Linked DNA regions of Homo sapiens. The protein of the gene in region 2 interacts with the protein of the main gene of each other region in a biochemical or structural test. Each region holds a gene or a part of one and is shown on either strand. Other genes may lie near its edges.

Evidence for each region.
Region 1: of the proteins of GZMH (region 2) and SSB, one has a biochemical effect on the other in vitro, tested with the Homo sapiens proteins (one study listed by BioGRID).

The regions. Positions count from the first base shown.
Region 1 is NC_000002.12:169,801,695-169,808,870, reverse strand, and holds part of SSB (lupus La protein), read right to left. Parts: intron 3,398-7,176; coding exon 3,294-3,397; intron 3,207-3,293; coding exon 3,032-3,206; intron 2,087-3,031; coding exon 1,979-2,086; intron 1,901-1,978; coding exon 1,800-1,900; intron 390-1,799; coding exon 318-389; intron 12-317; coding exon 1-11. UniProt on the Homo sapiens protein: Binds to the 3' poly(U) terminus of nascent RNA polymerase III transcripts, protecting them from exonuclease digestion and facilitating their folding and maturation.
Region 2 is NC_000014.9:24,606,673-24,614,730, forward strand, and holds the start of GZMH (granzyme H isoform 1 preproprotein), read right to left. Parts: upstream 3,014-8,058; 5' UTR 2,942-3,013; coding exon 2,887-2,941; intron 1,741-2,886; coding exon 1,593-1,740; intron 1,076-1,592; coding exon 940-1,075; intron 735-939; coding exon 477-734; intron 75-476; coding exon 1-74. UniProt on the Homo sapiens protein: Cytotoxic chymotrypsin-like serine protease with preference for bulky and aromatic residues at the P1 position and acidic residues at the P3' and P4' sites. Probably necessary for target cell lysis in cell-mediated immune responses.

The DNA.
Region 1 (7,176 bases), on a different chromosome or scaffold from region 2:
CTTCTTGCTCCCTACAAATAAAAATATAATTATAACATACTTCTATTTACTATATAAGAAAATTAAGTCCTAATAAAGTTAACCAATCATGATCACTAAACTTACTTAACCAAAGCCAGAAGTCCTTAGGTTTTTTTGATCGTCCAATGCTAGACTGCAATGCAATTTGGCCCTGAGATTGTCAAGGCAGCTTAAGATCTCAGTGTTTCACTAGCAAAGAGAAAGGTCTACTGCCACTATTTCAGAGCTCACCAGCTATATTTCTGTCAGAGCTTTAAGGAATTCAAATTATGTCGTGATTAGTTCAACATACTTACTGTTTAGCTCTTAATTTAGCTTCCACTTTATTTTGTTTTCTTTCTTCATTTTTTTTGGCAAAGTAATCGTCCCTAAAGAACACACAGTACAGAGGCTAAGTTCACGAGAACAAAGTTAAGACTGCAGATTATTTTGAATAACTTAAGACATGGCACAGCAATGAATGTTGCACACGCTTACTATCAACATAATCATCAACTAAAAATTCAAAATATGCCAAGGAATTTACTCTCTCATGTTTTTTTATATAACAGCTTTACTGAGGAAAAAATCCATGTGCCACAAAATTCACTCTTTTAAAGTGTACCTTGAATGTTTTTTAGTATATTCAGTTGTACAACCATCACTACTAATTTCAGAACATTTTCATGACCCCAAAAAGAAACCCCCTATCCATTAGCAATTTCATGTTGATTTCCATTTATCATTCATGTATAGGGAAAAAAGTGTATCAGAAGTCATGCAAATAATATTGCAGTTTTCTATAGTGTTAATTCCACAAAAGGAGAAAATTCTAAAATCCCCAAGATCCAACAATAACATATGAAAATCATGTTAAATAATTTTTGAGGATTTAACACTGATACTATGACCCATCACAGTGCATCTCTAAGTCAATCAAGTTTAGTATATACCATTTAGAAGACTAATGCACAGTCTTCTAAAGTAGGGAACTATGGCCCTACACCTAATTTTATCATGAAAATGCTCTGGTTCATCCCCATTTTTAGACACTTAGACAGACACACATTCACAAAGAATGTGACCCAAATCTCAAATCCTTTGTACTGTAAAAAAAAAAAAAAAAAAAAAAAGACATATAGGCTATGAAAAATAAGATGAAAACTGCATTGATATATTTTCCAAACACACAAAAGACCAAATTTTAATACCCAGCCTGATCAAAAGTTTTAGATGCAAAATCAGTATTAAAACATAACCTCCTTTAATAATGGCTAACAGTGGCTGGGCGCAGTGGCTCACGCCTGTAGTCCCAACACTTTGGGAGGCCAAGGCAGGCGGATGATCTGAAGTCAGGAGTTCAAGACCAGCCTGGCCAACATGGTGAAACTCCATCTCTACTAAAAATACAAAAATTAGGTGGACGAGGTGGCACGCGCCTGTAGTCCCAGCTACTCAGGAGGCTGAGGCAGGAGAATCGCTTGAACCCAGGAAGCAGAGGTTGCAGGGAGCCAAGATCACACCACTGCACTCCAGCCTGGGTGACAAGAGTGAAACTTGTCTCAAAAAAAAAAGAAAAAGAAAAAAAAATTGTTAACAGTGAAAAGGTACTAATGAACACTTTTCTTATAGTCTCAAAAGACTATAGTTCTCACTGAACAAATATCAAGCATTTCTCAAAGGTCATCTAAAGATACTAAGAATATTGGCCTTTCAGGGGATACTACTTCCATGCTCCTTACCCTAGTGTGTGTCCATATAAGTAAAAGGCCAGGAGAAACATCAGCAAAAAGACTTACTTGAAAAGTATTAGCAGGTCTGTTTCTTTGTACTTCTGGCCAGGGGTCTCTACAAATTTCTTAGCAGATTCAATGCTATCAAACACAACAAAAATTGATCCCTGTAAAAAGGAAGGAAAATATTTTTTTAAGTTATGTCCCATATATTTTAAAACTAGAAAAAGTCTGTATTATCATACCTTAAATGCTTTATGCAATGTTCTTCTCATCTGAATATTTAGTACTTGACCTTTATCTTCTAACCATTCTTTTATGTCATCAAGAGTTGCATCAGTTGGGAAGCCTTTCTGTGAAGAGTGGGAAGAAATGTACAAATAACAAATAATGACTTCTCAGATAAACAATTGGAGAGAATTTGATTCATTTTTTCTTGAAATGAACCCAGGATATACCTATCTATCTCTATTTCTCTTTGTTAATCACTTAACAGCCTTGTTTAGGAGCCACTACTCTCCAGTACAATAAAAGTGATTCATCTGGTATTTGCTTCAAAATAATTCAGTTGAAGCAGAAATAAAACAAGATGATTTGCATGTTCTGTTATTAACTACTAAAGCTGGTGATGGTACATTATTGAATCTATTTATATATGTATCTGAAATTTTCCGTAATAAAAAACTATTTAAAAATACACTAAAGAAAACTGCAATCAAGTTTAGCTGCTGATAAATAAGAACAGCTAATAGGCAATAGGTGCTTAGAATATGTCAAAGATTTCATCCAATGGTATATATATTTTTTTTCATTTAATTCTCACAACAGTTCTACAAGGTAGAAAATATCCACGTTTATGAAGATAAAACTTAGGACTAGGCATGGTGGCTCACACCTGTAATCCCAGCACTTTGGGAGGTCAAGGTGATTGGATCACTTGAGCCCAGGAGATTGACACCAGCCTGGGCAACACAGGAAGACCCGTCTCTACAAAAAATTTTTTGCCAGGCATGGTAGCATGCACCTGTAGTCCCAGCTACTCAGGAGGCTGAGGTGGGAGGATCACTTGAGCCCAGGAGGTCAAGACTGCAGTGGGCCATGATCACACCACTGCACTCCAACGTGAGCAACAGGATGAGACTGTCTCAAAACAAAACAAAACAAAAGAAACTTAGGTTAAGAATATTACGAAAGGACATACAGTAATTAGTGAGGCTGTGATTCCTGAGCCCTTATTCTTCCGTACTTTACTTTCTAAATAAATGTAAGATATTTAAATGCATTACAGGCCCACTTACAATATAAACAGATCTGTTTTTTACATCATTTTTATACTCATCAGTCACTTCAGGTAGGGGTTTGCTTGGAGACCTTCTGATTTTAGTTTTATCTTCACTGATTTCCATGAGTTCTGCCTTGGATTTGCTCAATGCTTCCACAATTACATTAAAGTCTGTTGTTAGACGGTTCAACCTGAAGAGTACATATAAAAACATAAGACTCAGCAGTAGCACTCATTGTAAACAGAAAACCTAAAGATTATTTTTAAAAGCTTGTTACCTGTTGAATTTTATCATTATCTCCAAAGGTACCCAGCCTTCATCCAGTTTTATCTGTTCCTTTAGAAACTTGTCCCGTGGCAAATTGAAGTCGCCAAAATAATACTGTGAGATAATTACAATGTATTTCAGAACACTGTATAATATGGACTCCAATCCTGACATTACTCTACAGTACCAAGTTCTGTTATTTAAAAATACATAAGTTACAAAAGGCAAAACACTTTCCCCAAATATACAATAATGTTTACAAATTAGCAAAAAGATAAAACTAAAATGTCAATTACTAAAATAGTGTAACAGATGTGTCAATAGACTAGAAAACCTTAAAGAAGAATATATTTAAAGATTATATGAAAAGGCTCTTGCAAATCAGTGTGGAAAGAACAGATGGTTAAATAAAAAGAACTGGAAGAAATTGGTTAATCACTCAATTCTTATTTTTTTTTGAGACAGAGTCTTACTCTGTCGCTCAGGCTGGAGTGCAGTGGCATGAACTCAGCTTGCCGCAACCTCCGCTTCCCAGGTTCAAGTGATTCTCCTGCCTCAGCCTCCTGAGTAGCTGGGATTACAGGCATGTACCACCACGCCCAGCGAATTTTTGTTATTTTTAGTAGAGACAGGGTTTTACCATGTTGGCCTTGAACTCCTGATCTCAAGCGATCTGCCCACCTCGGCCTCCCAAAGTGCTGGGATTGCAGGCATGAGCCACCACACCTGCCCTTCTAATTTTTTAAAATTAAAAAATAAGGGACGGGGCCAGGCACGGTGCCGCACGCCTGTAATCCCTGCACTTTGGGAGGTCAAGAGATTGAGACCACCCTGGCCGACATGGTCAAACCCCGTCTCTACTAAAAATACAAAAATTAGCTGCACATAGTGGCACACACCTGTAGTCCCAGCTACTCAGGGGGCTGGGGCAGAAGAATCATTTGAAACCGGGAGGCAGAGGCTGCAGTGAGCCAAGATTGTGCCACTGCATTCCAGCCTGACAAAAGAGTGAGACTCCATCTCAAAAAAGGGGGTGGGGGGCCAGGAGTGGTGGTTCATGCCTAATCCCAGCACTTTAGGAGGCTGAGGTGGGTGCATTGCTTGAGTCTAGGAGTTCAAGACCAGCCTGGGCAACATGGCAAGACCCCAGCTCTCCAAAAAATAAATAAATAAATAAAATAAATAAGAAATAGAGGTACGTGCCTCTAGTCCCAGCTCAGGAAGCTGAAGTGGGAGGATTGCTTAAGCCTGGCAGGTTGAAGCTGCAGTGAGGCATAATTGTGCCACTGTACTCCAGCCTGGGCAACAAAGTAAGACGCTGCCTCAAAAAAAAAAAAAAAAAAAAAAGTTAAAGTAAATGTTTCTCAAATTTAAGCATAGAGGAACTCTCAATATACAAGCCAAGGAAAAACCCAAGTATGACTATTTGGAATGCCAGAAGTAACATAAAAAGTAAAAGACAAACAAATTTTGTCAAGAATTCTTACAAACAAAGAAGAAGGGTAAAAAGAGAACACCCTAATAGAAAACAGTTAAAGGATATTTTATTGGCCTCGCACGGTGGCCCAAGCCCATAATCCCAGCACTTTGGGAGGCTGAGGCGGGTCAATTTCTTGAGGCCAGAAGTTCGACAACAGACTGGCCAAAGTGGTGAAACCCTGACTCTACTAAAAATACAAAAATTAGCCACACATGGTGGTGCACGCCTGTAATCCCAACTACTCGGATGGCTGAGGCACAAGACTAGCTTGAACCCGGGAGGTGGAGGTTGCAGTGAGCTGAGATCACCGCCACTGTACTCCAGCCTGAGAGGAGAGCAATACTGTCTCTCTGTCTTAAAAAAAAAAAAGACACTATTTTTCAGGGATCGGGTCTTGCTTTGTTGCCCAGACTGGAATGCAGTGGTGCAACCACAGCTCACTGCAGCCTGAAACTCCCGGGCTCAATTGATCTTCCTCCTCAGCCTTCCAAGTAACTAGGACGACAAGCACATGCCACCATGCCCAGCTAATGATTTTTTTAAAAATTATAAAAAATAGGCCAAGCGCAATAGCTCATGCCTGTAATCCCAGCACTTTGGGTGGCCGAAGCAGGTGGATCACCCGAGGTCAGGAGTTCGAAACCAGCCTGACCAACATGGTGAAACCCCGTCTCCACTAAAAATACAAAAATTAGCCGGGCATGGTGGTGTGCACCTATAATCCTAGCTACTTGGGAAGCTGAGGAACCTGGAAGGTGGAGGTTGTGGTGAGCCAAGATCACGCCACTGCACTCTGCACTCCAGCCTGGGAGACAAGAGTGAGACTCCATCACAAAAAATAAATAAATAAATAATGTACTGTAAACTAAAAAAAAAATCCAACCTCATTTCATTGTTAATCAAAGAAATACAATTTAAAGCAACGAGACAGCATTTTTCACCTAACAAACTGGCTAAGATTAGAAAGAAAACCAAGACTACCTAGTATTGACTTGAACACAGAGAACTAGCCATTCAGGTAGATGTAAACTGACAATTATCAGTGTTTTTTAAATGTGCATAATCCTTGAGCCAGTATGGCTCCTTCTAAGAATTTTCCTTGAAGAAATCAATAAACATGTTTACTAAGATTTATATATAAGAATATTTGTCAAAGAATGATTACAGCTAAAAAAATTAGAAACATCCTTCATATTAAAGAGGAGAATGAAAAGATTATTGATTACAAAACTTTTCTCCACAAAAATGCATCCTATATTTAGCGGGGGAAAGGGAAGGAAATAAAATTGTTAGAAATGTACCACTCTGGTGGGGGATGTTTTAAAAGGTGAAGGCACTATGCTTGTGTGGAGGCAGGGGATATATGGAAAATCTCTGTACCTTCTGCTCAATTTTGCTGTAAACCTAGAACTGTTGTAAAATATAAGGTCCACTAAAAAAATTAGTATGAGCATGAAGCAAAGTGTCAAAAGCTTTTAACCTTGATAACCTCAGAAGAGTAGGATTTGAGAGTTAGCAGGTTGTGGGAGAGATACAACCTTTTCTATATACATCTTAGTATTGTTCTAAGTATTAAACACAGAATGAATAATTTCTAATTTTTCTCCTCATAGTCATAAAGAAATTAATACCAAAAAAAGGAACATGAGACATTTTAAATGCAGAGACGTGCAGCTTAAAAAAAAAAAAAAAGCAGTTCTGAGAATTGCAGAAAAACCCCACACCAAACAATATGATCTGAGGGGTTCTTAGCAAGAACCTAAGTTTAGAGATAATTTCCCATGCAACCATTATCGATATTGTAAAGATTTTAAGGTTTTTTTCTTTTTGAGTTTAATTGAACAAAGAACGATTTGCAAATCAGGCAGCCTCCCCAGCCAGAGTATGCTCACGAAGACTCTCAAGTTTCTTCCCCTCGCCCCCTGAAACAGTGTCTCGCTCTGTCATCCAGGCTGGAGTGCAGTGGTATGATCACAGCCACTGCAGCCTCTACCTTCTGGGCTCCATCAATCCTCCCACCTCAGCTTCCCAAGTAGCTAGGACTACAGGTAAACTGCTAACACACTCAGCTAATTTTTAAAATTTTTTTGTAGAGATGGGGCCTCATCATGTTGCCCAGGCTGGTCTCTAACTCCTGGACTCAAGCCATCCTCCTGCATCAGTACTGCAAAGGTACTACGGATCACTTGAGGTATTACGTTAACATAAACATAATACCTAAATTTGAAAAAATGCTAAGAGGGTTTTGAAAACAGATACTATATTAAAGTTACTGGCTGGGCACAGTGGCTCACACCTGTAATCCCAGCACTTTGGGAGGCTGAGGTGGGCAGATCACCTGAGGTCTGGAGTTCGAGACCAGCCTGGCCAACATGGTGAAACCCTGTCGCTACTAAAAATACAAAAATTAGCC
Region 2 (8,058 bases):
GTCCCTTTTTTGTTTCCATAGGAGAGAATACCTTGGGCTACGTCCTTACACACGAGGGGCCCCCCGGAGTCCCCCTGTGAACAGAGAGAGGAAAGACTGAGCTAGTGTTCCCTGGGATGGGTGGTCTCTGTTATGGATTTTGTGTGACATCAGTGCCAGGCAGGCCTTGTCACTCACCTCCCTCAGTCCTGGGTCTCCAGCATGGCCCTGGCTGTGCTTTCTGGCTCTCCCCAGACCAAGCCTTTCTCTGCAATTCTCACGGACACTTTGGTGATAAGTGACTGTCGGATGACAGATCCTTCCCCTCCAGCCACCCCAGTCCACCCAAGGAGTGGACTAAAGACTAGATTCCAGGGGGACACAGGCTGCCCAAGCTCTGGGCTGAGAGCATAAAGATCTGGCCACTGTCATACCCCAGAACTCCCTCAAGTTCCTCTCTCCCTGTGGTCTTTCTGGGTAGAGGCTGGAAACCCAACCTTGAAACCGGTCTGTGTCTTCTTTGGATCCCCCACACAAATCTCAGTGGCTCTGCTGTAATTGCCATGGAAGAGACGTTCACACTGGCAGTCCTTCTGCACTGTCAGCAACACTTCCTGCAGTGTGGTTGCTAAAGTGCTCATTGAGACATAACCCCAGCCAGCCACACTGCACAGCTGCCCTGGCTTCACCTGGGCCTTGCTGCTAGGTAGCCTGAGAGGCCGCACAGCTGTGGTCCACTTGGCCTTTCTCTCCAGCTGGTGGGGAAGAAGCAAGAAAGTCCAGGTCAGGCAATGGCCTTCTGGGCCCCGACACAGTGATGGGGCTGCACAATCTTCCCTCTCCTCTAAGGCACAGGAACTGACCAAGAGGTCAGGATGGAAAGGAGGAAAGGGCCGGCATCCCAGTGGGAGTGGAACCAACTGGACCAAGAAGAGCAAGAGTGGCAGGAGTGTGCCTCACCTGCAGTAGCATGATGTCGTTGGAGAAGTTCTTAGGATTATAGGCTGGATGGGGGATGGGTCTTTTCACAGGGATAAACTGCTGGGTCCGCTCCTGTTCCTTGATATTGTGGGCCCCCAAGGTGACATTTATGGAGCTGCACAGAGAGCAGAGTGAGGATGGGGGTGGAGTCACAGGGGATAGAGCCCAGGAGCAGTGAAGAGCAGATGACAGCTGTGGCAGGGTAGGGCTGCAGCTGAGGGGAAGTTGAAGGGACAGGAGGGCTCCAGGGCTGAGTGACTGTGCCCTCTACTTCACAAAGACATGAAGAGTAGGGCTTCTGGGGGCTCTCTCTTGCCTTCAGGAAATATCATGAAATTGCTCGAGTTTGCATTTTGATCCTTAATGCATGGATTCAACCTTTACTACTGCCTTATTGGGCCAGTGTGTGAAACCATGCCACTTGCTCTGACCTCTGACCCTCTGACCCTCTGACCCTGTCCTATTTCTCAGCCTTTCATCATCTTAGTCCTATTCCCAGGTGGCTGCTCCGATGAGCTTTCATGGGCTTGTGTTACCAGGAACTCTGGAAGCTCCCCTGGGCTGCAGTCCCCAGGAGAAAACAAGGGTCCCTGTAGGGGGAACTCAGGAGGTGAGCTGGTGCTGCTCCTTACCTTCCCTGGCAGTGAGCAGCTGTCAGCACAAAGTCCTTTCTCACTAGGATGCCGCCACACCTCTTCCGACTCTTCTCTTGCAGAAACTGAACAAAGGCCATGTAGGGGCGGGAGTGGGGCTTGGCCTCATGGCCCCCGATGATCTCCTCTGAAAGGAAAGACTGGAAGATAAAGTAGCTGGGGATGGCTGCAGTCAGGAGAGAAGGCTTAGGACGACAGTGATTGAGGGTGAAGTGTTTTGTGTGCTGCAGACAGTGAGGGAGGGGTCCTCCTGAGCTCTGCAGGCAGTACTCCTTGCAGGCAGAGCAAGCTTTTCTGAACTTTAAGTCTCAGAACCTTCTCTCAGAAAGAATGGACAGTGCTTGACTTCTGCATCCTACTGCAGAAACACACATGGAGGAAGAAAGATCTATTTTCACAGTGGTAGAGCCCCAGAGGATCCTGGACAGGACTTCCCAGGCTCCTCCTTTTTAGTGAGTCTCTCTGATTCCTCTGAGCCTCTGCTGTCCTCCTGATTGGTGCCATTTTCTAATGATCTACCCATGAGCTTCTGGAGTTGGATTTTCTAAAATTCTCATGTGCCAGGGCTGAACACATTCTAGGTTCTCAGTAAGTGTTGTTTGGTGCATAAATGAATAGCCTCCAATTAGCCTTTGGCTGAGGTTTAGTGGGGGTAGTGCTGGTGGGATTCAGGACCTCAGGGATGTTAGAGGGGGTTATCACCAGGTCAGTGGAGTAGCTGAGGGCCTGCAAAGGCAGAAGGAAGTGGAGAAATCAACTAAAAATGAATCGCAAAGCCCAGGTGGAGCCAAGGTAATGGGAGAGCTATGGACACAGTCATCTTGCCATCTCTGAGATCAGTTGCACCATGGGCTTCCCTCCTGGCAGGGGTGACTGGGTGGGGGCACTGAATAAGTGGTTCTTAAGCTGAGTCCAGTAACAACTCCTATGACTGCAACTTGGTGTCTGAGCTCCTCTTTCCTGGGTTGGAGTGTAGAGTAATAATTACTTATCTTTTTTAGCTTCACATTCCCTACCAAATGCCTTTCTAAGAACAATCCACACTCCAGGTCATAAAGGAGAGGTCTAGGGAGAGGCTAACACCCATTAAACCTTTTAGGGAACACCCTTCATTTTTCGATCTTTGCTGAGTGTCTATCTAGCCTCAGATTTATAAGTCTGGGTGTGGAATGGGAGGTGGGCTCAGATTGAGGAAAATTCCTGACCAGTGCTCATGGGTACAGGGTATCTTATAAGATGGGTTCAGGCCTCTGGAATAGGGATAGTCACTTACCTGTCCCAGCCCCAGGGGTCAGAAGAAAGGCCAACAGGAGGAGGAATGGCTGCATTTTCTCAGGAAGGCTGCCCAGGTCAGAGCTGTTGGTGTTGACTCCTTCCAGAAACAAATGCTGGAGGGAGATGAAGGAGGGATGGGTACAGTAAACTCAGAGACCTCCTAGACTTGTCCCCTTCTGGTTTTGATGGGTGTCATTATAGAAGGTGGTTTATTAAAATTATCTGGTTTGGTTTAAGTTGACATGGCACTGTCACATTTACACCCCTGCTGCTGAGTAACAAGGTGAAAGCAAGAATAAAGAACAAGGAGGTGGAGCTGTTGAAGCTGTGGCTGCAGCTAGCAGAAAGGCTGGTACTGCAGAAGCTCCTCAGTGACTGAGAACCAAGAATGTCTCCTTTTCTCAGTTCTTGGCTCTTTTTCTACTCAGATAAAATCATGAATAATTATTTAGCAAGCCAGATCCAGGGATATGAGAGACATGGCTCTTGCCCTTGAAGAATTGATGGTTAGCAAGAGTAGACTGAAAATCTGGGGTTAGAGCACAAGATGGTAAGGGCCGTGGTGGGGAAATCTGCCTGTTGGTGTGAGACGGAGGCTGGACTTGCCTTAGCAGTATGCAGAGTTGCACACACCCAACAAATACTGCAAATGGCAACCCATTCCTATCTTACCACTATCTCAGATTCATATTTTTGGGATATTTAGAATCCCCTCTTTAAATATAAATATTCTGTGACAAAGATAACTTTTTTTATTCCACAGTTCTGCACAAAAGTTCTGGACTTGATATTTATTGAACCAAAATGAGTCATCATTGGGTCCACTGAAGTGTAGTGGACTGATTGCTTTATGCTTTGGTTATTTAGCCCTCCTTAAGCTGAGGTGGGGACTGTTCCACTCCATCTATGGTGCTTATGAATGAGGAGGGGATTTCCCTTGAGAAATGCTAGTTGTTGTTGCCAGGTGATGGAAAAATGGATGCTGATCATCCTGATAATAATTGTTCACTAAGGCCGGGCGCGGTGGCTCATGCCTGTAATCCTAGCACTTTGGGAGGCCAAGACGGGTGGATCACGAGGTCAGGAGATCGAGACCATCCTGGTTAACATGGTGAAACCCCATCTCTACTAAAAATACAAAAAATTAGCCGGGCGTGGTGGCGGGCTCCTGTAGTTCCAGCTACTTGGGAGGCGGAGGCAGGAGAATGGCGTCAACCCAGGTGGAGCTTGCAGTGAGCTGAGATCGCGCCACTGCACTCCAGCCTGGGTGACAGAGCGAGACTCCATCTCAAAAACAAACAAACAAACAAACAAAAAACTGTCCACTAAGTATTCTCTCAGTTTCCAGAGAGCCATGTCTCTGATGTCCCTTGGCTCACAGTCATAGGCTGTCCATAAACAAAAATGTGTATATATACATATGTTTGTATATTTATGTATATGAATATATATAAATATATATGTATAGTTAAGTAGGAACATGTAAATGATAAAATTAAACTTACCAAAAATTCTACCACCGGAGATCATTATTAATGCTTAAGCATGTTTCCTTCTACTATTTTTCTAGGTATTTATAAGGTGCTATTCCTGCTATTACTTTAACAGAACTGGGATAGGACTTTAGGTGATAGACTTTTTTGTGATGAATTTTCCAGGTGTTCTTTGAGCTTCTTGTATTTGGATGTCTAGGTATCTAGCAAGGACAGGGGAGTTTTCTTCAATTATTTCCTCAAATAAGGTTTTCAAGCTTTTAGATTTCTCTTCTTCCTCAGGAACACCAATTATTCTTAGGTTTGACTGTTTAACATAATCCCACATTTCTTGGAGGCTTTGTTCATTTTTTAAAAATTATTTTTTCTTAGTCTTTGTTTGATTGGGTTAATTTGAAAGCATTGTCTTTGCGCTCTGAAGTTTTTTCTTCCGCTTGTTCTAGTCTAGTGTTGAAACTTTCCAGTGGATTTTGTATTTCTCTAAGCATGGCTTTCATTTCCAGAAGTTGTGATTATTTTTTCTTTATGATATCTATTTCTCTGGGGAATTTTTCACCCATATCCTATATTTATGTATATATATATTTTTTAATTTTTAAAGTTGTTTTTTCACCTTTCTCTGGTATCTCCTTGAGTAGCTTAATGATCTTCTGGATTGTTTATCTGGCAATTCAGAGATTTCTTCTTGGTTTGGATCCATTGCTGGGGAGCTAGTGTGATCTTTTGGAGGTGATATAGAACTCTGTTTTATCATATTACCAGAATTACCTTTCTAGTTCCTTATCATTTGGGTAGACTATTTCAGTGGAAAGGTCTGGAACTCAAGTCCTGCTGTTCAGATTCTATTATCCCATGGGGTGATCCTTTGATGTGGTGCTCTCCCCCTTCCCCTAGGGATGGGACTTTCTGACCACTGGACTGCATTGGCTGTTACTGCTTTTCTGGGTCTAGCCTCCCAGTGGCGCTACCAGGTTCCAGCTGGTGCTGGGGAATGTCTGCAAAGAGTCCTGTGATGTGATCTCTCTTCAGGTCTCCCAGCCATGGATACCATTACCTGCTCTGGTGGAGGTGGAAGGGGAGTGAAGTAGACTCTGTGAGAGTCCTTGGTTGTAGATATGTGTAGTGTGCTGGGTTTCTTGAATGCTGGTTATGCTAGCAGTGAAGTTTTCATGTGGACACACTCAGGACCTCTGTTTAGCCAGGATGTTGCAGGCATTGGAATTAGGTGTTATCTTCTCCTTCCTGGGTTCAGGGTTATTCTGTCATGAGTTGCTGTAATGGCCTGTGTTGTTTGGCCTCCAGCCAAGAAGTGGTGCTTTCAAGAGAGCACCAGCTGCATTGGTAGTAGAGGGATCTAGGTTTGCCCTAAGTTGGCCAGGGTGAGTATTTTGGTTTCTCAGATGATGGGTGGGGCCTGAAAGCTCCCAAGAGTTTCTATCTTTTGTGTTTGGTTACCAGGGTGAGTAAAGAAATACCATCATGTTGGGGCAGGGTTAGGTGGGTCTGGGCTCAGAGTCTCCTTGGGTGGGGTTTGCTGTGGCCACTGTGCGGGATGTGGGGGTGGTTCTTAGGCCAATGGGGTTATTTTCCAGAGGGGATCTTGGCTACCTCTGTTGTGTCATATAATTCACCAGGGAAGTGGCGGAAAGCTGGTAGCGAGAGGTCTCACCCAGCTCCCACACAGTTGGCAAGGCCAGTCTCACTCCCAAAGTGCCCCACTCAGATCTTGCCCAAGGCTGTGAACTTTCCCACTGAGAAAGCAAGCATGGATTTCAGATATCACCCCTCCCCATCTGCCCACTCCAACGGGAGTGGCTTCTTTGCTTCTGAGTTCATGTGCTCATATTGCCAAAGCTCCCACTCGTCCCCTAGACTCCACTAAAGAAAGTTTGTGTCCAATTGAAACCACTACCAATTTCAGTTGGAAGCTTCCTTCACCTGGTGACCCCTCCCCAATTCCACTGGCTGCCTTCCCTGAGAGATCCTGTGAGATATAGTCAGGAATGGCTTCCCTGGGCTCAAGCTGAAGATTGGAAGTGCCTTGCAGTCTTCTGATACTGATACTTCTACTTTTATATTTTGTGTGACTGCCTACATTTGTTTCAGTTCAAGGTAAGGTTAAATTCTCCCTTGATCTGGATTTTCAGATTCCCCAGTGGGGATGTGTGTTCAGAGGCAGGTTTTTTCCCTCTCACACTTTGGGAACTTACAGTTTTTCACCTGTTTTGCAAAATTTGCAGCAGTGTCCTGCTTCTTTCAAAGGGTGTGTGAATTCCTTTGGTTTTCCTGGTGTGTTCCCGTGGTGGTTCTTGGAACAAAAGAACACAGTATGAGTCTTCACATACTGTTGTGTCCATCTAAGTGGGAGTTGCATGTGGGTTTAAAGAAACCTGACTCATGAAGGACTTCCCATTTTTTGTACTGCCATGATCATCAGTGCATTATTACTGTCTCACACTGTTTCTTCATAGTGTCTCTCATCCTTCAGATCTCACCTTTTACTGGTATTATTATGGATCCTAGTAATTTATTTAAAAAACAGCAAAAGCTTAAACTCTCCTCCTTTGAGTCTCATGGGGTTGGAGTGGAGTTGTTGGTTTGGATCCTTGCCCAGGTAGCTTTCAGATCCAGCCCTCATCTTCCTGCTGCTCTTCTCTGTGACACAGTCTACATCACACAGATTTCTCTGTCTGACAGCTCTGTCTTCTTGGACCAAGCCAATGGGTGGTGCTGAAGAATTAGGGTCTTTTTCCTTCCCACTCTTTCTTCTTAGCTTGCGGACTGTTTCAGGATGACTCCTCTGCTCTCCTCCTGGCTCCAGCTCTCACCTGGCAGGCTAGATATGGTTTCATATTCTGCCAGGTGATCAGGGTCCTGGCAACACTGCTTGCTCCCTCCATGCCTCCAGCTAGGTGTGGTAGTGGCTTCCTGCTATTGCTAATCTCTCGGTTGATTCATTTTACCCTCTTTGGCTCCTGTCATGTAATCAGTTCCCTGGAATAAACTCCTTTTGTTTGCAAATATTTGGAGTGGTTTCTGTCTTCTTGGACCCTGACTAAGACACTCTGGGGTATTAATTTCTTAGTGCTGTTATAACAAAGTATTACAAACTGCTGGCAGCAGGCAACAGAAATTGATTCTTTCACTGTTCTGGAGGCCAGAAGCCTGAAATCAAGGTATCAGCAGAGTTGGTTCTTTCTGGAAGTGTCTGGCAAAGTCTGTCCCATGCTTCTCCTAGCTTCTAGGGGTATCAGCAATCCTTGCCACTGCCTCGGCTTGTAGATGCATTGCTCCAATCTCTGTATCTGTTGCTGGGTGATCTTCCCTGTGTGTCTGTGTCCACATTTACCTGTTTTAAAGTGATGCCAGTCATTTGATTAGGGTCCCTCTTAATCAAGTATGAACTTATTCTAACTTAGTTACATCTGCAAAACCCTGCTTCCAAATGCTGTCACATTCATAGGTGGTGGGTGAACATAAACTTTGGGGGGACACTATTCAACCCAATACAGTTGGATTTTAGTTTGAGTCTTTTGTTCAACAAACAGGCCGAGACAAGGATTTAGTTAGAGGTAATTAATTTTTTTTCTGAGATAATTCCAAGAGACTGGAGCGAGGAAGTAGGAAGAATGAAACAGGGAAAATAAGGAGAGCTAACCATGAGTGCATTACTGAGC